Homo sapiens: one gene and its partners. The protein of the gene in region 3 interacts with the protein of the main gene of each other region in a pairwise test. Each region holds a gene or a part of one and is shown on either strand. Other genes may lie near its edges.

Evidence for each region.
Region 1: the proteins of MECOM (region 3) and CEP128 interact in a two-hybrid assay, tested with the Homo sapiens proteins (one study listed by BioGRID).
Region 2: the proteins of MECOM (region 3) and NIBAN2 interact in a two-hybrid assay, tested with the Homo sapiens proteins (one study listed by BioGRID).
Region 4: the proteins of MECOM (region 3) and TRIM26 interact in a two-hybrid assay, tested with the Homo sapiens proteins (one study listed by BioGRID).
Region 5: the proteins of MECOM (region 3) and HSF2 interact in a two-hybrid assay, tested with the Homo sapiens proteins (one study listed by BioGRID).
Region 6: the proteins of MECOM (region 3) and TRIM58 interact in a two-hybrid assay, tested with the Homo sapiens proteins (one study listed by BioGRID).
Region 7: the proteins of MECOM (region 3) and EPB41L3 interact in a two-hybrid assay, tested with the Homo sapiens proteins (one study listed by BioGRID).

The regions. Positions count from the first base shown.
Region 1 is NC_000014.9:80,784,739-80,788,238, reverse strand, and holds part of CEP128 (centrosomal protein of 128 kDa), read left to right. Parts: intron 1-2,693; coding exon 2,694-3,344; exon of another isoform or gene 3,345-3,500.
Region 2 is NC_000009.12:127,507,459-127,510,073, reverse strand, and holds part of NIBAN2 (protein Niban 2), read left to right. Parts: intron 1-942; coding exon 943-1,098; intron 1,099-1,535; coding exon 1,536-1,652; intron 1,653-1,873; coding exon 1,874-1,981; intron 1,982-2,095; coding exon 2,096-2,207; intron 2,208-2,615. UniProt on the Homo sapiens protein: May play a role in apoptosis suppression. May promote melanoma cell invasion in vitro.
Region 3 is NC_000003.12:169,653,713-169,657,212, reverse strand, and holds part of MECOM (histone-lysine N-methyltransferase MECOM), read left to right. Parts: intron 1-3,500.
Region 4 is NC_000006.12:30,203,407-30,206,906, reverse strand, and holds part of TRIM26 (tripartite motif-containing protein 26), read left to right. Parts: intron 1-2,141; 5' UTR 2,142-2,251; intron 2,252-3,500.
Region 5 is NC_000006.12:122,402,652-122,406,151, forward strand, and holds part of HSF2 (heat shock factor protein 2), read left to right. Parts: intron 1-3,500. UniProt on the Homo sapiens protein: DNA-binding protein that specifically binds heat shock promoter elements (HSE) and activates transcription. In higher eukaryotes, HSF is unable to bind to the HSE unless the cells are heat shocked.
Region 6 is NC_000001.11:247,863,687-247,867,186, forward strand, and holds part of TRIM58 (E3 ubiquitin-protein ligase TRIM58), read left to right. Parts: intron 1-1,018; coding exon 1,019-1,249; intron 1,250-3,500. UniProt on the Homo sapiens protein: E3 ubiquitin ligase induced during late erythropoiesis. Directly binds and ubiquitinates the intermediate chain of the microtubule motor dynein (DYNC1LI1/DYNC1LI2), stimulating the degradation of the dynein holoprotein complex.
Region 7 is NC_000018.10:5,537,498-5,540,997, forward strand, and holds part of EPB41L3 (band 4.1-like protein 3), read right to left. Parts: intron 2,928-3,500; exon of another isoform or gene 2,843-2,927; intron 1-2,842. UniProt on the Homo sapiens protein: Tumor suppressor that inhibits cell proliferation and promotes apoptosis. Modulates the activity of protein arginine N-methyltransferases, including PRMT3 and PRMT5.

The DNA of each region.
Region 1 (3,500 bases), on a different chromosome or scaffold from region 3:
AGATAAAGGCTATTCATTTGAGGGCCCTGGGTATGTCCAGGGTATTGAGATGACAGTAAAGACACTGACATTTTCAGACTCAGAGAAAATGCCTAGACAGAATCTTAAGCTGTGGCTACTAGGCAAGCAATTAACCAGAATCAGATCGACAGAGCTTAGTTTTTAGTATCTGTATTGCCAAAGAAATTCCAAACTTGACTCACATGGTCTGTGACTGTCTGCCCTCTGGCTGTCACCCTTGTCAGGAATTGATGTGAAGCTTGGAACACTGCAAAGACAGCAAAAGATGGAGAGTTATAGAGTAGCAGAGCCTGAGCTTTGAGGGATTCTTCTTGAACCATCCTGTCTCTGGACTTACTGTTATGTGTGAAAAAGAAATATCTTTGCTTTTTAATCCAACTTCAGGAAGATATAATATTTCATAATTAAAGACACTTTACATGGTATGACTTCATTATGAAAATATGATTTTAATCCTCAGCACTGCCTATAAGTCTCTCAACTCATGCCAAGGGGGCTAAGTTATCTGCTTCAAACATATATCACTATATTGAAGGTCCCTACCCTCGCTCAGTCCCTCCCATGCTATCTTTACAGCCCAAATTTGATTCTATCAGTTCTTGTGTTCTCCAGTTTGGTAAGTAGAATGACCCTCCCCAAAGAAGTCACACTAATTTCTGGAACCAATGAATATGATAAGACATTACTCCTGTGATCACATTATCTGGATGGGCCTAATCTTATCACATGAGCCCTCAATAGAAGGTTTTTTTTTTTCTGGCTATTGAGAGAAGGGGACGTCAGAGAGAGTTGGAGCTTCGGAAGGATTCATCAAGCTGTTCAAGCTTTGAAGATGGCAGAGTCCATGAGCCAAGGAACAAGGTTGGCTTCTAGAAGTTCAGAATAATCGCTGACCAAAAGCTAGCAAGGAAATGGGGACCCAAAGTCCTACAACTGTATGGAAACAAGTTGTATCAGAAACCTGAATGAGCTTGGACATGGATTCTCCTCAGAACCTCCAGACAAGCGCCCTGGCCAGCTGATACATTGATTTTAGTCTTAGGAGACCTTAAGCTGAATACCTTGCTTGGCCTTTCAACCTATTGGAAGCAGTGAGATAAAAAATGTGTATTTTAAGCTACTAAGTCTGTTGGAAATTGTTATGAAGCAATAGAAAAATAATACATCTACCCTTAGGCTCATCTATATTTCTCCTACCTTACATTCTTTCGGAAGTGAACTCCTTCATCTGTGTTCCAGAGTTCCTTCTCCTCAGTTATCCCGTCTTTTCACAGTAGAGACGGGGTCTTGCTATGTTGCCCAGGCTGGTCTTGAACTCCTGAGCCAAAGCTATCTTCCCGCCTGAGCCTTCCAAATAGCTGGGATTATAGGGTGTGCCACTGGGCCTGGCTCTTTTTACAGTTTTGATCACTACCTTGCATAAACACCTCCCTGAGACCCTAATACCTCCTCGAACTTAAATTCTACTCCAACTTTTTGTTTCCCCTTTCTCACTAATCTTCATCACAGTCTTATGAAATAGCTATTATTATTTTCTCTAGTAAGAGAAATGATTTCCCCGAGGCCATAGAATTGCCCGTGATTGAACTGAAAATCAAATTCACTTCTTTCTGGTCAGAGCTCAACTGCTTATTCATCTCCTTTTGTTAGTTCTCATGTTATCTTTGTGCTCTTTCTTTCTTTCAGTTAAAACTGAGCAGGATTGGGGAAACTTTTTTTTGGAGTGATTGACTCATTAAATTTTTGTCATAAATTGTTTTACACTGAAGTATAAAATGTGAAGTGTAGAAATGTCTTGCAAATATTTGCATTTTAACTCATTATTTGTAATTCTGAAATGAGTCTTAATTGGTTCCTTTTTTTCCCTCCTGTTTCACGGAGATTATCTTTGGTGCCAGTGTTGTATAGAAAACAATCTTGGCTCCCTTGGCTGCCCATTATTTTATTTGCAATGATTAGGTGGTGAGAATTAGAGGCCAGAAGAGTTAACCCTTGGCCTCTGTCCTTCCATGTAAATCTTAGAGAGGCTGGCATAGAATGATGGACTTCTAGGCCCTTGACTTTTCTCTTGAGCCCTTTCCCAACCTTTCCTGACTTAATCTCATTTCTTTGTGGGCTTCCAGGCTCCCAGTTGCATATTGGTGAGTTTTCGTCACCATTGATATTTTAAAAATAATGGCTGAATGTACCGTAAACTTTCTTGTATTGTATCTGCATGCTTCCCTATATTATTTTCCATCTCTGTTTTGGGGTTTCTCCTTTTTAAAAGTGTATCATTGGAATGTACATCAGTATTATTTTAGGTAATAGTGTATTATTTCAACCTGTAGTAAGTTTTCTTTATAATGAGAGTCTTTGCTTTCCCCATTTGTTTGCTCAATTTTATCTTACATTTAAATAATTATTTGTGACCATGGATTGAAATAAGTTTTGGTGATGAAAATTTGAAATACATATTTCAGTGTGTTGCTATTTCAGGACAATTATATATTCCCCCCCACCTTTCTGGCCTAAAAGTATTTTTATTAAAAAATGGGAAAAATACAAAAATTATTTGATGAATTTTTTTTTTCCTTGTGGGTTAAACATTGTTTTGCTGACTGGCAGAGTCTATGGTGAATTTTACAGTAACTTTTATTTTTTTCTTTTGCTTCATGTTCTTAACCTGATAGATTTTAAAAGAAAAGGATGAATTGAAAACCCAGCTGTATGCAGCATTACAACAAATAGAGAATCTTCGAAAGGAATTGAATGATGTCCTAACAAAGCGTGCCCTTCAGGAGGAGGAGCTTCACTCCAAGGAGGAGAAATTACGTGATATTAAGTCTCATCAAGCTGACCTTGAATTGGAAGTTAAGAATTCCCTGGATACCATCCATAGACTGGAGAGCGAATTGAAAAAGCAGAGTAAGATCCAAAGCCAGATGAAAGTTGAGAAAGCTCACTTGGAGGAAGAAATTGCAGAGCTCAAGAAGAGCCAGGCCCAGGACAAAGCTAAACTTCTTGAGATGCAAGAGTCCATCAAGGACCTGAGTGCCATCCGAGCAGATCTTGCTAATAAATTGGCTGAGGAAGAGAGAGCCAAGAAAGCAGTGCTTAAGGACCTTTCTGACCTCACTGCACAGGCAAAATCCAGGGATGAAGAAACAGCTACAATCATCACACAGTTAAAGCTGGAACGAGATGTGCACCAGAGGGAGCTGAAAGATCTCACATCATCATTGCAGAGTGTGAAAACAAAACACGAACAGAATATCCAGGAGCTTATGAAGCACTTTAAGAAAGAAAAGAGTGAGGCTGAGAATCATATCAGGACTCTGAAGGTACCTCTGCTAAATTATCCTGATGATACTGAAGGAATTTTTCTGGTGGCTCATGAAGTTAATAAAGCGTAAACTTTTAGAGATCATTCTGTATTCCCAAGCACTGAAGGGAAGATAAAACCAACAATAAAGAGGCTTATTCATGCCTGTTCGGCC
Region 2 (2,615 bases), on a different chromosome or scaffold from region 3:
CGTGACTCCGGGCAGCCGTTCCCCTCCAAGGCCGTCCCTGTAGACGGGGAGGGGCTGCTGGGGACTAGGGGCAGAGGCTGTGAGGCCAGGGCTGTTGGAGTCCTCGTGGGGCCTGCAGTTTGAGGAAAGAGGGAACATTAGCTCCCGGCCACCAGCCTTTAGAAACCAAGAGTGGTGCTAAAATAGAAAAGAATTTAACAGAAGAGAGGGAAGGAGGGAAGGAGAGGAGGGGAGAGGGAAGGAGGGAAGGAGAGGAGGGAAGGAGGGAAGGAGAGGAGGGAAGGAGGGAAGGAGAGGAGGGGAGAGGGAAGGGCGGGCTTCAGGTGGAGTAATGAGATTGATAAGGAAGAATTCACAAGTCACGCGCCCTCCAAATGGAGACAGCCGTTGCCCTTACTTGACCTCAGTTATCTGGCTCTCGGGGTGAACGTCCTTCCACAGTCTCCATCTTGGGCTGGCTGCCCGGAGCCCGCATAGTTGTCAGATTGAATTTATCCTGTATCTTAGTTTCCTCCTTTATACTCTGAAATGGGGAGTCCACAGACCATAATAATCCCAGAATCTGAGACCTGGAGAGGACCTTGGAGAGCAGGAAAGCTCTCTCCCAATTTTGAAGCTGAGGAAACTGAGGCTCAGAGAGGGTGAATGACTTGCCCAAGGTCACCCAGCACCTCAGAAGGGATGAGTGCCTTCTGCCGGCACCGAGGCTGCCTCTCCACAGCGCTGTGCCACTGGACTGCGCCCTCCATGCCTTCAGAGCCTCATGCTTCTGTCCTGGGCCCTCCTGGGTTTACCTTTGTGGCCATGAGCACCAGGTGGCCATCCCTGGTAGCAGGCGCCAGCCCCAGGGCCTGGACTTCGAGGACCCAGGCAAAGTGTGTGGGGGGTGCTGCCTGGCCACAGGGCGGCCCTGCTCAGCCCCCGCGGCCCCGGCCCCTGCAGTACATGGAGAAGCTGTCCCGGCTGGCGTACCACCCCCTGAAGATGCAGAGCTGCTATGAGAAGATGGAGTCGCTGCGACTGGACGGGCTGCAGCAGCGATTTGATGTGTCCAGCACGTCCGTGTTCAAGCAGCGAGCCCAGATCCACATGCGGGAGGTAGACCCGAGGCTACGACCCCCACCCCACACCCTGTCCACTGCCTTCCACAGGCCCCCTCGCCCAGGGGGTCCCTTCTGCTCCGTCCCGTCATGCCATAGCCACGCTTGCCTGGCACGCTCTCTCCTCCTCTGCTTGGAACATCTGTGCCTCTGCCCACCTGGCTAATTCTGACTCACTTCCCAGGTCTCAGCTTAGAGACCCCTTCCTCCAGGAAGCTCTCCTTGCGCCCCCAGGCCCCTTCCCATATTTCCTGTTGCCTTGAGGCAGGGACTTGCTCCAGCGTGCAGAGCTGTGAGTGGGCATAGACCGCTTGCCATTCCTCCCTGGCAGGCCTCGGGGTGGGGGGCTGGTTGAGGATGAGGACCCCTCAGCGGCACCCAGGAAGGGGCTGTGGTCACCCTGGGGGCTTCACATGTCCGCGGTATGCCCTGCAGCAAATGGACAATGCCGTGTATACGTTCGAGACCCTCCTGCACCAGGAGCTGGGGAAGGGGCCCACCAAGGAGGAGCTGTGCAAGTCCATCCAGCGGGTCCTGGAGCGGGTGCTGAAGGTGAGCGGCCCCACGCCCTGCCCCGGACCGTCCTAGGCGAGGCCGAGCCCCGAGCCTCATCCCCGGCCACCACCAGGATTGCTGTCCCTGCAAGGAGGCGCCATGGTCCTCTTGTGCGGATGAGGACTCGGAGGCTTGGGTCAGACCACTGGCCTCGTCCTACCCTCAGGGCCAATGGAGCCCACTGACCTGCAGACCCCCGACCCCCTTGTTCCCTGCAGAAATACGACTACGACAGCAGCTCTGTGCGGAAGAGGTTCTTCCGGGAGGCGCTGCTGCAGATCAGCATCCCGTTCCTGCTCAAGAAGCTGGCCCCTACCTGCAAGTCGGTGAGCAGCCCCCACCTGCTCCAGCCGTTTGGGCCCTAAGTTGGGGGATGGAGCCCACAGGCCTCCCTCTACCCTTGGCCCTGACCTCTCATCTCTGCCGCCCCACCCGGGCAGGAGCTGCCCCGGTTCCAGGAGCTGATCTTCGAGGACTTTGCCAGGTTCATCCTGGTGGAAAACACGTACGAGGAGGTGGTGCTGCAGACCGTCATGAAGGACATCCTGCAGGGTGGGTGCCGTCCCGGGGTGGGGACTGTTGCCAGGAGGATGCTGGGGGCGCAGCTGAGAAGTGGTGGCAGCTGAGGGGGTCAGCTAAGGCTCAAAGAAAAGCCCAGACTTGCACCTGGGGTCTGGGTGAAGCCCACTCTTCGCTGTGTGGCCTCCGGAGCAGCCTTAGCCTTGCGTCTCTGTGCTTTAGTTTCTTCTCGCGTCCTTGGCTTTGCTGGGAGGGTCAGAGGAGTGATTAGATGACATGTGGTCAGCAGCCTGGGCCTGGAGATAGCATCACGGCCTTGCTGCTTTCAGCAACGAGGCCTGGAATGAGTCACATCCCAACCACAGACCCCCAAGGCGGGATGAGACGGGTCTTCTTTGAGCAGAGTCCAGCACAGGGGCGGCTGTGGGATCAGTGCTGTGT
Region 3 (3,500 bases):
GACTGTGTAACTTTAGTGTATTTAGATATTTGTTAATTTTGTCTACTGGGTCTACAGGGGACAGAGAGCCTCACTGATGTGTTCTAAATGGTTGTCTGAATACAGATCCCCCTTCCCTATTGGTATCAGTAGGTCTAGAACTCTGCCCAGATGGTTTTGTTTCTAGGCATTTTTTATCTGTGTATGTCCTTGTAAGTTGGAAGGAGTAAATATATAGATATTATCTTCATATTTCACTTTGGTGAAAAAACCACAAGTCCTATGGTTTTACTAATTATTCAGCATTTAAACATCCATACAGCATTTTTATCTATATAGAAACATAGTTGTTCTAAGAAGTACATACTGAATTTTTTTTAAGGCAAGTTCTAGTCCTTTTGAAAGTGTGGACCACATCTGGAGTTGTTAGGAAAGAAAGTGGAATTTACTCTAATTTATGTGTATAAAATACAATGTTATTAGAAAGAATGGGATTTGAAAGGGCACACGGTAAAGCCCATAACATTTAGTGGGTAATGTGGAGAACTCAAAGCCAAGACAAAAATACCATCAACCCATGCAAACCCTAAAATAGATTACAATGACCTCAGTCATTTTCATTTTCAAAAATAATAGCCATGATTAAAATGGGGGAGTGTTTTGCTTGGAACCATACTCTTCGGCATTATTATAAAAGCTGTTTTGTGGTTAAAGAACTGTTTCATTATGGAAAAAAAGGGAACTGAATTTTTAATCAAATTCCTGACTCTTCAAAAGCACTCATTCTTGAATTAATTCTTATTTTGATTTTAGTTATTATTCTTATTCATTAGCAAACGTGCTTTTGGCTTGTATATTCAGCCAAATTCTTGACTACTGACTTTTATAACAATTCTAAAGGAGAAATTTATTTAGAAAAGAGATTTTATTATGTTAGTAAACATGTGTGTAGGGGTCATTAACTACACAACATAAAGAACCAACATTTCCTAAACCTTGTTCAAGAACCTGCCTAAATGAATTAGTTGTATATGTCAAGGTTGTTCAAATGATGACATTTATGAATGAAAGTGCTTGTACATGGCAGTTTTTGTGCTTTGGCGATGGGCAGGCTTACACAACAAATATCAATGTGCTAGGCCCTGTGCACGGGCAAACCATGTTCCCTACTCTCACAAGCATTACAAACGTGCACATCAGTGTTTGAATCTGGGCATGATCCCTGATTGAAAAGTCAGGTCCTCTTCAAGTTATTGAATGCCTCTGAGGCCTAGCATCTTTACTTGTGAAGTGGGAGTAATAATACTACCCTCCTTGGGCTGCTGTGAGAGTTAATTGGTATAATGTGTGCAAAGTACCTAAGGCACATGCTCAATAAATCTTAGTGGGTTTCAGTTTCCTTATAATTTATCAGTTAAATTTTCTGAAGAAGAAACATCCTTTTTTTTCCCCTCCTGTTTAATGTTTTTATCCAGTTTCCTTTTTAAAAGTATTTACATGTCTACGGTAAGCATTTTGTATGTCTTCTCAATAAATTATGCCCTCAGAATGAAGGGAAGTCATATCTAAAATTTGGGCACATTAAAACTGTCCATACCAAGCCAAACTAGGCAGTAAATTTGTTCTGAAAACTTGAGCATCTTCCTTTGCCCTTTATTTGGAGTCGGGGTGAGGGGGATGTGTAAATAAAATGATTGAGATTTCAACTTTTCCCCACAGATTTTGGCATTGTATAGCCACACAGCCCTAATTTAGTTTTGCATACTCTCTAGTTATCATTAGGCAATAATCCCTCCTGAATGAAAATTTGACTTTTAGTGGATTGAGTTTGTAAGTCACTTTACTACTGCAGCTGGGTTGCTCCTCTTTAAATGAATGGATTAGACTAGAGCAGAGCCTGTAAATTTGCAGGTACCATAAATGAGTGAAGCAAGGTGGGTATAAGCCTTAAGCTCTCTCCTATTTTTATTTAATTTTTTGACACCCAGCCTTTGTATTTCAGAACAAGAGGGAGTGGCGGGGATGGTGGGAAACTGGCAGTTCAAGACTCCTCTAAAGGTGGCAGCTTCTTCTCAGCTCCTGCTCACTGTTACCATTTGGGCAAGGGGGTTCAGGGCCGCCAGGTCTTCCACTTTTTAAGAGAAGCCACAAATCTGGGTTTTTATGTAAGTTTTCTCTACTTTATGAAATGTTGATTCAATTTTAAAAAATTCTGCAGGCCCAACCAAACACCTCTGCCTGCAATATATAGTTTGTAGGGTTTGCAATGTCCAGATTCATTGATTTCCAAGGGTGCTTCAAAGTTTCATTTTATGGTGATATCCAGAATGGTTTTTGAATATTACCTTGTGTTTTTAAGATCTATATCTTCTTCCCCACCTCAAGTTAATATGTGTGTGTGTGTGTGTGTGTGTGTGTGTTTTGATAGGTGGAAGTACTTATTACAGAATCTGATATCTGGCCATTTATCTGGAAAAATAGTCTTTTACAACTATGTTGTGTCTTTCTTTCCCTCCATGCCGTTTCATCATTAATTGGCTTAAGAAAATAAACTGAAGCATTCCCTCCCCTTCTTGTATCCACTGGCCACCATTCTTTCTTATTTCTCACTAAACCCAATTCTTTGATTTGTGGGCTGGGGGTTGGGCAGTAAATCATTAGGAGACAGTCATCTGTGGTTTTCCACAGTGGGAGAAGGAGTCATTTGGCTACTGTGGATATTCAGAGGAAGAGTTCACCCCTGCCCTCCTAGGAGAGTCCAGATGTAATGTCCTGTACATCTGTAACTGAGGAACCCAACTGATTTTTAAGACCTGAACCTAGGATGGAGAAATAAGTTTTTAAGGGATGAACGTCTTATTTGAGCAGAGTGGCTTTCCATGTAGGAAGGTCATATATGTTCGGGTAACATGTGAAAATAAACATACTTTGCTCTGTTTATTATCATGAGTTGTATTTCTAGCAGAAGTGTTAGGTGAATAACAGGTAAAATTAAGTCTTTAGGATTAAAAATTGTGGTGATGGAATGTCAACACAATGGACTCTCCTGATAAAGATTTGACTGAGCACTTTATAATATCTAACTCAATACTGTAGTCATGGGACTTGTCAGTGAATACATATCACTATCAGTGAATATTGTTGGGAATATCATCGGATAATGCAATTCTTTTAGAGGAAGATTCTGAGTAGTGATGAACCATGCATATAAGCATTATCAATGAGTTATCACCTCATTCTCAATCTTTATACCTGATGCTGAATCTCAAATTCCTTAGCTTGGCTGTTGAGGGGCTCTACTTTTGTGCCAGAAGAATGTGGTGACTCCTGAGTACAGGTCGGGAGTGAGATTTGCCTGGGTTTGAATCCTGGCTCCACCATTTACTAGCTGGTTGAAATGAAGGCAAGCCATGTAACCTTTTTGTGCCTCAGTTTCCTTACTTGTGGACTAGAGGTACTTACCTCATGTGAGGATTTGATCAAACTAATGCATTTAGAGTGCCTTAAATAGAATAAGAGTT
Region 4 (3,500 bases), on a different chromosome or scaffold from region 3:
CCAGCCAGCTCTGCTGCTGGGCAAATGAGTCCGAGGCTCTGGCACTCACTGTCCTCCTCTGTAAATAAGGGGTTCTAGTGATTCACAGTCCTGGATAGACTTTAGAATCTCCTGGGAAGTTTGTTTTTTAATACCAGAGCCTGGGCCACCTCTGGAGATCCTAAGTCAGTTGGTCTAGGTATGTTTTGAAGACTCACCAGTTTGAAGACTACAAATCTGATGTGTAGTCAAGGTTTGAACCATTCCACAAGATGATAAAGGATTCCTTCCTATATTTGGTGCAAAGCACCAAGTGACACTTAGGAATATTTTAGACAAGAGAGCTTGGTTCATGATTCAACATTAGACAGATATTCTGGCACAAATATGAAGAACCCTCAATTTTCCCCTGTGGGTCAGCCACAAGACCAGGGCAATTTAACGCCTTGTCTCATCCACCTCCCAGCTGGCTGCTACCTCCTGCCCCTCTTTGAGCCCTGTGGGGATTTCTAGCGTTCAGAGCCCTGGTAGTTTTTGTGGCCTGCACTGTGCTTCAGAGCACCACTGATGCTCGGCTCCGTGGGGAAAGTAAGCCAAGTGTGACCACAAGAACGCATCATCCACAGTCACTGGGATCTCCTGGGACAGCCTGGGATCCAGGCCTTTGGCCTGGCCAGTAGGGGTGCAGTCACTCCTAGTATGCACATCCAGATCACTTGCTTTTTGCCCCGAATTCTGGCCTCTCCAGGTTTGTTAGAGGTGTCTCACGGAAGTTTACCCCATGGAGAGTTTGCTTATCTCAGATTAAAATATGGGGATTAATCTGGGACCCAGGAGCCCTTAAATGGAGTACCCACAGGGAATGGAGCTCTAGGCTAAGTGCTTTGGGATTACAGGTGCTTTGCTCTTGTTTGGAGGTCCAGACATATGCTTGAGAAGCAGCTTGGGATACTCAAGAGAGGCCTGAACTGGTACCCTGGAGGCCAGGATGAAAACCCAGGCCTCTCCATTTACTTTCTTGGGCCCCAGAGTCCACATTTGGGATTCACTGTCTACCAGGGCACCTCTCTGGGTGGCATCTAGGAGCCGGAGGCAGGCCAGAGTTTCACCCAGGCTGGAGTGCAGTGGCGCAGTCATGGCTGTCTGCAGCCTCAACTTCCCGGGCTCGGGAGATCCTCCTGCCTCAACTTCCTAAGTAGCTGGAACTATAGGCATGTGCCATCGCACCCAGCTAATTCAGCTAATTTCTTTTTTTGGAGACAATGTCTCACTATATTACCCAGGCTGGTCTCAAACTCCTGGGCTCAGGCAGTCCTCCTGCCTTAGCCTCCCACAGTGCTGGAATTACAGGCACAAGCCCCCGTGCCCGGCTTTCAGCTAGTTTTTGTAGCTCATAGTGATTATTCTTGGAGCCAATAATCGTGCATGCATCCACATCTTGAAATTACATGGTGTCACCTTGACCAGTCTGTTGACATATGCAGATTAGGTATTTATGAGATCCAGAGACTTATAGGGGAGGGGTGGATTTCAGGGAAAAGGGAACCTCTTAGAGAAAGGTAGGGAGTGTCTGCAGTTCTGCCTGTGAGGAGGGTACCAGGACATTGCAGGGCTTGTTTGTTGCATCTTCCTGGTTCTATAGAATTGCAGCTAGCTTCTGGTTTATTTTTTCATTTTTATTTTTTGAGATGGAGTTTTGCTCTTGTTGCCCAGGCTGGAGTGCAATTGGCGTGATCTCAGCTCACTGCAACCTCCGCCTCCTGGGTTCAAGCGATTCTCCTGCCTCAGCCTGCCCAGTAGCTGGGATTATAGGCATGCGCCACCACACCTGGCTAATTTTGTATTGTTAGTAGAGATGGGGTTTCTCCTTGTTGGTCAGGCTGGTCTCAAACTCCCGATCTCAGGTGATCCACCCGCCTCTGCCTCCCAGAGTGCTAGGATTACAGGCAGAAGCCACCGCGCCCGGCCGCTTCTGGTTTATTGAAGAGACAGAAAAATACCCCCTCACCCCCAGCAGGGATGTGTGACCTCTGGTGCAAGGGAGTTCATGAAGTGACTTCTTCAGGTTCAGAATTCTCATCTGAGTAAAGGGAGTGGGGGTGGAGTGGGTCATCTCTGAGGTTTTTTTTTTTTGGCTCTGATTTTGGTTTCTGTCTGCCCAGGAGTCAGGAATGGAGAGAAGGGTAATGGTTTTACCTCTTATTGTGGAAACCTGTTGAGATCACAGAGAATATACTGACGGCATAAAAGGGCAGAACCATAGCAGGGTGCGGTAAGTTGGGGAAGAGTTTTTGGAGAGGGTGAATTTTGCATTGGACCTGACAGAATTGTGTATGGGGAAGGGGAGCGGTTATTCTGGTCTGCTCACATCTCTCATACTCAACCTCATTTCTCCTAATTCTGAAATCTTGAGATCCTCTATCACTAAGAAGGAAAACTACTGTCCAACAGGGACACTTTATTGCTCACCCCATATGTGAAAGTTTGTCATAGCTAAGGCTAGGGTGCTTTTGGTCAGTATCAGCAGAATATATGCCCCCTTTCTTTTGTCAGCATTACTCCGCTTACAAAGCCCTTCCATGTAGATGACCTCATCTGAGCTTCCTAACAAAGGAGCTGGTATTAGACCCCATTTTACAGTGTGCCTGGGTAGGGAAGAGAGTGTAGTGGATTGAGCAGAGGCCTTGGCACCAGACACTGCTTCCTAGCCATGTGCTCTTGGGCAAGTTGCTTAACCCTGCTGAGCCTCAGTTTCCTCAGAAGGAGTCTGTATAAGCAAGGGAAGGGATTGGTCATAGAAGTGGTACTGTGTTTCATTTATCTGGTTATGGCAGACTCTCAAAAACAAATGGTTCTATACAACTAACATTGTCTGCAATTCCCCTGAATCCATTCACTTGTTCAGTAAATGTGTATTGAGCTTCTACAAGGTGTCAAGCACCATGATCTCTGTATCAGTGATTTAACCATTTTTGATGGTTACTACAGACCTCTTTAAGAATGTGATAGAAAACTGTAGCTCCCTCCCCAGAAAACTTTTCTAGCTTTTTATTTTGCTTTGCAGTGAGCCAAGATAGTTCCACTGCACTCGGGGGACAGAGTAAGACCCTGTCTCAAAAAAAAAAAAAAGAAAGGAACCATTTCAAATTAGGTGGGAGACATGGAGCTCTAAATACTACAGCATCCATTGCCTAGAAATACAGGTATTCTCAGCCGGGCGCGGTGGCTCACACCTGTAATCCCAGCACTTTGGGAAGCCAAGGCAGGTGGATCACCTGAGGTCAGGAGTTTGAGACCAGCCTGGCCAACCTGGTGAAACCCCGTCTCTACTAAAACTACAAAAAATTAGCCGGATGTGGTGGTGGGCACCTGTAATCCCAGCTACTAGGGAGGCTGAGGCAGGAGAATCGCTTGAACCTGGCAAGCGAAGGTTGTAGTGAGCCAGATTGCGCCATTGCACTCCAGCCTGGGCAACAAGAGAAAAACTCCATCTCAAAAATAAATAAATATATTAATAAATA
Region 5 (3,500 bases), on a different chromosome or scaffold from region 3:
AAACGATTCTTCTGCCTCAGCGTCTCGAGTAGTTGTGATTACAGATGCGCACCACCATGCCTGGCTAATTTTTGTATTTTTAGTAGAGACAGTGTTTCACCATGTTGGCCAGGCAGTCTCAAACTCCTGACCTCAAGTGATCCACCCGTCTCGGCCTCCCAAAGTGTTGAGATTACAGGTGTGAGCCACCGGCGCCCAGGTACTCTCATCTTTTGAAAGTTGCTATTTATGGTGGTTTCTGGTTTCCTTCAAACTTGTGTTGTATTTCTGTTGAGGTAATTTAGCATTTATACTATGAAAATCATTGAGAACTTTTAGAAGAAGCAGTTGTTTTGGGAACCAGACAAGCTTTTGTGCAGTTTTTTTTTTCAATGGTGGAAAATAATTTATTTCTCTACCTTGAGTGTAAGGCAAGGGAAAAAAAACTCTTACCAATTGCGTTTTGGAAAACGCAGTTGGTAATATCTCTAGATAATATCTCTGGAGACGTACATAACTTTAATTTTCCTCGAAATTTGCAATATGACAAAATTGAAAAGGGAAATAATACCTCTCACCATTAAATACAAGAATATAATAATCTGAACAATTGAAATTATACTTAAATATGTTATTGACTCTAAAATAATAGAAATGCCTTAATTCCAGACAGTCTTTAAGAAAGCATAATGTGGCTAGGCGTGGTGGCTCATGCCTGTAATCCCAGCACTTTGGGAGGCCAAGATGGGCAGGTTGCTTGAGCCCAGGAGTTTGAGACCAGCCTGGGCAACATGGTGAAACCCTGTCTCTACAAAAAAATACAGAAAGTAGCCAGGTATGGTGGCGTGCATCTTTAGTCCCAGCTACTCAGGAGGCTGAAGAGGGGAGATGGCTTGAGCCCATGAGGCAGAGGTTGCAATGAGCTGAGATCACACTACTGCAAGCCAGCCTGAACAACAGAACGAAATCCTGTCTCAAAACAACAACAACAAAAAACAGAAAGAAAAGAAAGTATGTTTTACATATTTCCATTTTCTCCTTACTCTTCTGAAAAACAAAAATGAAAAGTTTTCATTTTTTTTAACATTTCCTTTAAATGTAAAATTTTATATAACTGTTCTTGGCTTTGGTAGTCTGTTGTCAGAATCAAGTACAGAGATTGTACTGTCAGACGACCTAAAACTGTTTTAAATCTTAAGTGTCCTAAAGAGAGGGCACATATTAGCTTGGAAGCAACTGGTGAAACTTGATATTCAGAGACAAGGCCGTAGAGGTTAAATGAAGTTATATAGTAAAAAACAGCCTTTACGAGTTAATGAAATGTTACAACCAACGTATGCTGAAGTGAAGCAGTATAAAAGAAGGAAAGAACTGGAAGGTCATCCTTTTGTCAGTGTTGTTACCTTTGTCTCTGTTCTTCAGATTGTTTGAGAAAATGAAGTGATTTCCACCAAAGACTTCATACCCAGCTTTCCCCCCTTTTTGTGCCCTTTGGCATTCTCTGCTTCTCTATCCCCCTCATGTCAGCAGAGATGAATTAGGAAATAGGTAGGAGGGAGAGAGAGCAAAAACAGAATTTTTCCATTGTTTTCTAGCTGTTTTGGATGAATTTGAGCAGTAGGCCCTTGGACTTCACAAAGTGCTAGTATTGTTTTGAACATCCCAGCAACCATTGCATTATATTAGTATTTCAAAGTGAAAATAAGAAAGACTACAAGTGTGGGAGGATGGGGGTAAAATCCAACTTAGATGGACCTGCAGAAAAGTTGAAAGATTGATTTTCAAGTATTTTTATTTGTATATATAAGAGAAAGAATGAGCTAAAGACTCTAAAAGAGTAGCTGGTGCATATTAAAAATTATAGATTAGCAAGCCACAAATTTCTGTTCCGAAAAATGTTTTAAAGTAATGTGGCTGAAGTATTAGATTATTAGGAATATTTTGAGTGTTCTAACAAGAGTGCCAAAATTAATTTGGAGAGTAACGACTGTTTCTACTCTTTGGACTCTTGCCAACATTTGTGGGTAAGGTTTAAGGAGAAGGTGCCTATCTTTCCCACCTCACTCAGTAGTAGTTTTCTCATCCTTGTAAAATACTTAGGGAGATTCTGTGTTGTATTGCTTGAACCTCACAGGTTTAAAAGACAGGAAGGTGAATTTTTGCACTCAAAGAAGTTATTTACTAATTTTAGAATAGAGACTGAGGGAATACAATAAGCAGAGATAGAGTGATATGAATGAATAAGGAGTGTATGTGAGAGAGAGTGAGCACAGGTATAGCAAGAGATTATTGTCATCTCCCTATTTTATATAATCAAATAGTTGAAATTCTAAAAATTCAGTTTATTTGGCCAAAGATTAATTTAGTCAGTCACAGGTATTTGTTATGAATCTGTTATGACCTAATATTGTGCTAGGTATCAGGAATTCATTCAGTAGTGAACCAAAGTGCCTACCTTTATGGAGCTTACATTGAGTGGTGGATATCAATAAATAGTAAGCAAATACAAGCTGGGTATGGTGGTGCATGTCGTAGTTCTGGGTACTGGGGAGGCTGAGTTGGGAGGATTGCTTGAGCCCAGGAGTTTGAGGCTAGCTTGGGCAACATACTGAGACCCCTGTCTCTTAAAAAAAAAAAAAAAAAAAGTAAAAGCAAGCAAAACACAATCAATATAATTTCAGTTAGTGATAAATGCCTTTAAAAAACACCAAGATAAACTGTGTGTCGGTTAAGATGCAATCATAAGTCAGAAGCCACAGGTATTTTCAAGAGGGTAAGTTTAATAGAGTTACTGACTATATCAGGGAAATTAAAGAAAATTAAAAGAATACAAGAATAGTTTTAAGAAGCAGCCACTACTGATAGGGCTGAGATAGAGTGCCCAAGTAAGAACCTTTTTTGCCAAGGCTAAGATTCTTACCTTATTGGAAGGAATATGGCCATGACTCAGTAGCAGAGCAGTCACTGGTGTTGCTCTGGTGGAACTTACTGGAAATGCATCCTTCAAAACTTGGTGGGAAATATGCCCTCTAGGTCACGGGTTGGCAAACTGTAGTCCTTTTGCCAGCTGTTTTATAAAAAAAAGTTTAAATAGAACACAGCTATGCCCAATCTATTTACATATTGTCTGTATCTGCTTTCTCACTACAAAGGTAGAGTTATGATGTTATAATCTGCAAGCCTAATTTACTATTTGTCCCTTTAAGAAAAAGTTTATAAATCCCTGTTCTGGAGTACTCTAAAAAACTGTTTATGGGGAGATATCTTGTTAGAGATACTCTGCTTTGAAACCTCCCAAGGGAGAGGAAGCACCAGTGAAAGCTGATGGTCTTTGAGTGTTGCTGACCACCATTAATATCAAGAGCTAGGCACTGGAGAAGCTGCCTCCACTGCAGAAGCTTGCCAAGGATACATGAGTCAGGAACAAGAGCTCCTTTTTCTTGTAATATCTCTCTTTTATCCCCTGCTGACAGAACTTAACATCATGGCACCTAGAAAAAGAAAGATATTTATTTAAGGAA
Region 6 (3,500 bases), on a different chromosome or scaffold from region 3:
TTGAGGGAATAATTTACCTCTCGTACTCAGCTTAAAGTTAGTTTTCGATATACTTATCTTGAGAGAAGAAAATCTAGAAACTAAGCCTGGGACGAAGTATGTTCCTTAGGTCTATTCAGAAACTGAAGACGTGAGATTCAGGTAGAAATTGGGATTAATTCTCTGACGTGAACTCTGAAATCAGTGGCCTGAGCATCACTTAGTTCTTTCTTGGCTTTGTAGAGAATGTTAGGCTTATGGTTGTGTTCACTATTACCATATTATGAAACAGCATTCATATTTTCTCATCTCTCAGCCTTTTCTTATTCAAACAAACATTTCTTCATCATTCAGTTGTTTCTAGTGGTTCTAGCGACTGATCTAGTAGTAAATAGTAACTTCTGCTGTGTGACTGCTCTATGCTAATCACTGTTCTTGTAGTTTAATAGATATTTAGCTGTAATCCACATACTCCTCTTTTTCCCCACATTTTTTAAGAGATGGAGTCTTGCTCTGTTACCCAGGCTGAAGTGCAGTGGTGCAATCACAGCTTACTGCAGCCTCGAGCTCTTAGACAAGTGATCCTCCCACCTCAGCCTTGTGGGTAGCTGGGACTACAGGGCTTACCACCATGCCTGGTCGGTTCATTTTAATTTTTTTAGAGATGGGGTCGCATTTTGCTTTGTTACCCAGGCTGGTCTTGAACTCCTGACCTCAAGCACTCCTCTTGCCTCGACCTCCCCAAAACCTCACATTTTGTATATGGTACTGAAACTTCAGTATAAAAGTGCCTTGCCCCCAAGCCTGTGGCAAAATGGGAACTCCAGTCCAACAGTATTTTTTAAACTTAATTTGAAAACTCTCCTGGGCTACTTCTTATATGAATGGACTCCAGTCTGTGCATGTTGTTAGGATGCAACCAGTGAGTCCACAGAGTTACGGAGCCCGGGGAAGTCTGGACATTACCTTCTCCAGCACTGTCCTGTACATGGCTGCTGGAGGCCAAGCACTGACGATGTGATCCACGGTGTCACCTCAGGAGAAAGTGGAAATGCAGAGGCAGCGCTTCAGATTGGAGTTTGAGAAGCATCGTGGCTTTCTGGCCCAGGAGGAGCAACGGCAGCTGAGGCGGCTGGAGGCGGAGGAGCGAGCGACGCTGCAGAGACTGCGGGAGAGCAAGAGCCGGCTGGTCCAGCAGAGCAAGGCCCTGAAGGAGCTGGCGGATGAGCTGCAGGAGAGGTGCCAGCGCCCGGCCCTGGGTCTGCTGGAGGTGAGGCCGGGTGCCAGAAAAGCAGGCAGATGTGAGACTCAGGTGACAGAGACTAGTACAATGGCTTTCAGAGACAAACACTTTGGCGTTTATGTTCTTTAGGAAAAGGGCACCCTCAAATTTACTCAGAAGGCAGCTTAAACACCCTAGAATTTACTCAGAAGCCATTCCTGGCATCAGAATCATGAGATTCTAGAGAATCATATAGTTTGAGTCTGGCATGGTGGCACATGCCTGTAGTCCCAGTTATTAGGGAGGCTGAGACAGGAGGATCGCTTGGGCCAAGGAAATCGAGACCTTCCTGGGCAACATAGCAAGACCCTGTCTCAAAAAACAAACAAACAGCATATAGTTTGTTTTAAGGACTAAAGAATTCTTAAAATTAATGATTTCTGAAAACTTAAACAGCTAGGGAAAGGACAAGCTACACTCTGCTGGCTGAGAAGTAATTCCTAAAACCTCAGAGTCAGTTTGTCCATGATAGCATTGCTGTTTTTTAGGGATGGCTAGCACAGAAAGTCTGCATAATACATTTCAGTGTCACTGGCCAGAAGGATGAATAATGATTTAAATTGTCCAGCTTGAAATTGTTATATTGGATTGTAAAGCAAACACTGATTTCCTGGCCCACATTGCATGCCCGTTCCAGGCATGGCGAGGAGGGATTACGTGGACTCCCGTGCAGCTTCCTCCCAGTCTGTTTGGGATTAGAGAGCAGAAAGACGAGTAAGAGTGAAAGGAAATCTTTGTTTTTAATCCTCTGTGAGGCATCATATCCCAAGTGAACAGGGAAAGCCAAAGTTGTTGATAGATCCATGTTTTCTTGGTAGAACCAATGGCAACAGAAATTTATCTGGACCGACTCCTATCTCCTCCCCAGTGACTCACGCAGGGGATTCTAAACTAAGTGATGCATGTTCTCATTTAAAAGCTGACCCACGGATTCCACCTTTTCTGACTCAGTTCTAGGCACTGAAAGTACCATGAATATAAATAATCCTATTAACTGTCTGTATAATATTTGCAAGTACAATGACTAAACAGGACTGATTATGAGGCAGGGGACCATTAGATGAATTTATAAAGCCATTTAATTTGTCTCATTTTATCTTATATATATTAAATTTATATTTTATTATTATTGCTATGTTCATTTCCTTGTTAGCAAACTAAGAGTCAGAAAGGAATTAATTTTCCAAATAGCAGAGAGCAAAATACAAGAACTTTGACGGTTTCTTTTCTTTTGTTTTTTTGAGACAGAGTCTCGCTCTGTTGCCCAGGCTGAGTGCAGGGTGCAGTGGTGTGATCTTGGCTCACTGCAACCTCTGTCTCCTTGGCTCAAGCGATTCTCCTGCCTCAGCCTCCTGAGTAGCTGGGATTACAGGCATGTGCCACCGCACCTGGCTAATTTTTTTTTTTGCGTTTTTACTAGAGATGGGGTTTTGCCATGTTGGCCAGGCTGGTCTTGAACTCCTAACCTTAGGTGATCCGCCCACTTTGGCCTCCCAAAGTGTTGGGATTAAAGGCGTGAGCCCCTGTGCCCGGCTTGACAATTTCAACAATAGTATTTATTGCTCTGCCTGCCTTGGCCTCCCAGAGTGCTGGGATTGTAGGCATGAGCCACCCCGCCTGGCATGGGAGGATATATTCTTAAATAAGGTATCTTATCTATCTATTTTTCTAAAAGGGCAGGATCTCACTCTGTCACTCACGCTGGAGTGCAGTGGCTCAATCATAGCTCACTGCAGCCTCAGTCTCCTAGGATCAGGTGATCCTTGTGCCTCAGCCTCCCGAGTAGCTGGGACTAAAGGTGTGCACCACCACGCCCAGCTAATTTAAAACAAATTTTTAGTAGAGATGAGGCTTGGTTGTGTTGCCCAGGCTGTATATTTTTATACTTTCCTTTCCCTTTCTTCCCTGGTACTAATAAGCTACATTTTACCCCTGAAGGCCAAGACCAAGGCCTGACATTCCCATACAGGGTAAAGCAAATTATTCCCCTGCTTTTATGTCATTAAAACTTATCTGACTGGCAACTGTTTTTAAGGGGAGAGGGGAAATGTATCCCAAATACAATTATTAATATAATAAATGTATCACAGATATATTTATTTAATAATCTACTTTGAGAAAATAATGTTACTAGTTATTAAAGGCTTCCTTTATTAATCTATTTAGATAACCTCCTCATAGGAATAGCTCTGGTACGTTGGTTCAGAGAATTAGGAATTTATAATTCCTATAAAGATAT
Region 7 (3,500 bases), on a different chromosome or scaffold from region 3:
AGATTCCTATTCTTCCAACTCATCCTACACTTATCACCAGAAAAAATATTCTTCTTCCCTACTCAACCACTTTCAATAACTCCCCACTACCTAGCAAAGCCCCAAATATCCCTTAGTCTCATATCCAAAAACCTTCCACAATCAGGCCTCACACTCCCTACTTAGATGCACCTCCCATTACTCCCCAGCATACAGGCTATATTCCAGCTAAAGGCAGGTCTCTTGACTTCTGGAATGTCCTATCTGGAATGTCTTCTCAATGACTAATTGAGAGTCTCTATCAAAATCCAGTCATCTTCCCAAGGCCAAAATGGAAAGTCAAAATGGGAAATGAAGAATTTTCAATAGATTTTCCCTATAAAAGGATCCTTTTATAGGAAACAATCAATAATACATAGAAAAACAATCACTGATACACAGAATGGACAGTGTAAAATAAGCATTACATATTATAAAGTACATTTCAAAAAATTGCATAGCCAAATGATAAACCATATTTCATAAGATTCATGACACTGATTATAAGAGATAACATCATGTTGTATAGCACTCTGCCAATTAAGCTATGACTCACACATTTTTAGAAACTGGAATTTTCATTTTCTTCTTATCTAAAGAACTCTGATTGAGTTATTCAACGCATAAAGAAAATATAAACAAAATAGATTGGCCAAGGTGTTCCCAAAAATTCTTACATATTCAGAATCCAACTCTACCAAATTGCACGTCAACTAAGAGTTACTGCTGTCTATGCTTTTCCACACAATATCAACTTGGGTCACCACGAGCACTAGAAATGTATCACTTAAGAGTGCTCCATTACTGTCTCCAGGATTTTCTCCAATCCACTAACATCCAATGTCCAATTTTTGATGCATATTCACAAACAATGAATTAAGTTGCCAGCTTTTTCTCTGCAACATGGCTGAGAGCCATGTAAGACATATCCCAATTTCAGAGATGTTAAATGTGAAAAAATAACTTTCTTTTAGAAATGATGAAATTTGGGGCTTGAATCAAATACAAAGAAACTCGCTATTTGAGGATGTAAACACAGGCATGTACAAAAATGACCAAAGAAGAGAGAGCTAAAACAGAAAATAGTTTTCCTCTCTTTAGTTGAATGCTAGGAGATCAATATCATCTCCCAGCACTAATCCTTTTCAGCTTTTGTCACCCTACCATTTGATCCCTCCCCTCTTCAGAGGACACCCTCCACACTGATGTCCTCCATGACACCAATTAGAGCTGGCAGGAAAGGAAACCGACTCCCTGCAGTTCTTCCCTCAAAGAAACCATTCTTCTTTTCTCTTGGTACCTGCAGAATTCTCTTCCCTGATATGGCAAAACCTCTAGGATCTACCAATTTGAGCTACAGACAGAGGTAACAACCTTGTTATGAAGAGGACCACGCCATTAAAAATAATGACTACATACATGAGTCTGGTAATTCTCATTTTTAAATAAAGCAGCAGTGCTTTTTAAGCTTTCTCCAAGATTTTTTTTTTTTTTTTTTTTTTTGGTAGTAAAGCGTAAGTTACAAATGGCCCCATTTTTTATACAATTTCGTAAGTATTTACTGAATGCTTTAAGTGTCTAGACCTTTACTTGGTTTGGGAAAGAAACCTGAAGAGAAATAACTCCCTATCCTCATCAAGCACCCACCCAATATAACTGGAGAGAAAAATATATACTCAAGGCAGGTTAAATATTACATTTGTTTTCTAGGTCTAATATAGACCTTTCTGCTTTCTCTCTCTCTCTCTCTCTCTCTCTGTTTTTAGTTTGTAAGGCAGGGTTATAAGAACAATGTATCAAAATGTCAGCAATCTAAAAATTAAGTTGTCAGCTTTTTCTCTGTACTGCAAATTACAAAAGAATTGGTGCTAATAGAAGCTTACAATTCCAAAGTATGCAATTTAACCAATCATCGCAAGGACTAAAAATGCAACACCAAAGACATTTCAACCAAGTAATCTGCAGTTCTGGCATCTAATTTCAACTTGTCTTCTTGTGCCATTCTTCCCAATTTGTTTCTTCTTTATGCTTTGAAACTGTGCTCTGGAATTGCTACATAGTTAAGAAAGAACTGCCCAGAGCTCCTACATACATAATACACTCACATGAAAAATGTCAGTCATGGAAAAGACAAGGAACATCTGCAGCCATTCTGTGGTTCTTCATTTTTTATGCTGATATTACTATAAATTCAGAAAGGAAAACATGAAATATACTTTATTGCTTCCGAATTTCAGTCTTATCATTTATTCAACACTAATTTGGGTGAAATATGTCTCTGATCATCTCTGCACTAGAATTCTAAATTAGGATTAAAATGCTAAATTATAAAATAATTAGTACATAAAACAAAAATGGAAATGGAAATCAATTACTCCAAATCACTGCAGATATCTTCTACTTATGAAACACCTTTTTCCATTTTTTCCTATTGCCAACTGCAATCACATCACTTAAAAATAAATGAGAACATTGCCTACCCAATAAGTAAATTGCATCTTTAGAGAGACCACATACTTTTTTTAAAAGACATTACTAATAACCTAAATCAAGAATTTAAAAAGAATGCTGTTTTAGTACAAAGAACAGTAAGAAATATGTTGCCTCAATATATAAATAAAAATATACTCATTTTTCTTGTTCTTTAATTTTGTAAATGGCCCTTCTAAAAAATTACAGTTTTCTCTACAAAAGGAATATTCAGTGCTTTCTACTATTTCACAAAAAACAAACAAACAAAAAACGTCTCCTTCCTTACTCTTGGAGACACATTTTCCCATGCAGTCTTATATTCATTTACACCTTTCAATTCTCCAAACAATACCTCGCAATGCAGTTCAACTTGAGAAAGGAGTCTCATTGATTGATCAGGCAAAGTTTTAAAGCCAGCAAGATGCTTCAGATGGTCTGGTTTTGCCTGCCCCACCCTTGTTTCCTTTGAGCCATAGTGATGTCACAACACCAGGCAGGACAATGACTTCACTGCTCCAGTCCTTGCTTCTGAGCACAGAATTCCCCACAGCCAAGGCAAATCAAATAACAGCAGAACCCTCCCGGGCTGAGTGCCTGATGAATTCCCAACAAATCAGCAGCTAGCTAGCCGTTTGAAAGAAATAGATGCAGCGATTGCACGATTAAGGATCTCTCTAACTGAAGTGGTGCTAAAGATAAATTTGATTCATAGGTTTCAATGGTGAGTCTATATTTCACGGAAAACTGATGGGGTACTTAGGGGAGACTATGGGAATTAAAGACGGCCAGGGTAGATTACTCAAGAACCCTCTCTCCGCCGGGCGCGGTGGCTCACGCCTGTAATCCCAGCACTTTGGGAGGCCGAGACGGGTGGATCACGAGGTCAGGAGATCGAGACCATCCTGGCTAACACAGTGAAACCCCTTCTCTACCAAAAATACAAAAAAATTAGCCGGGCGTGGTGGCGGGCGCCTGTAGTCCCAGCTACTCGGGAGGCTGAGGCAGGAGAA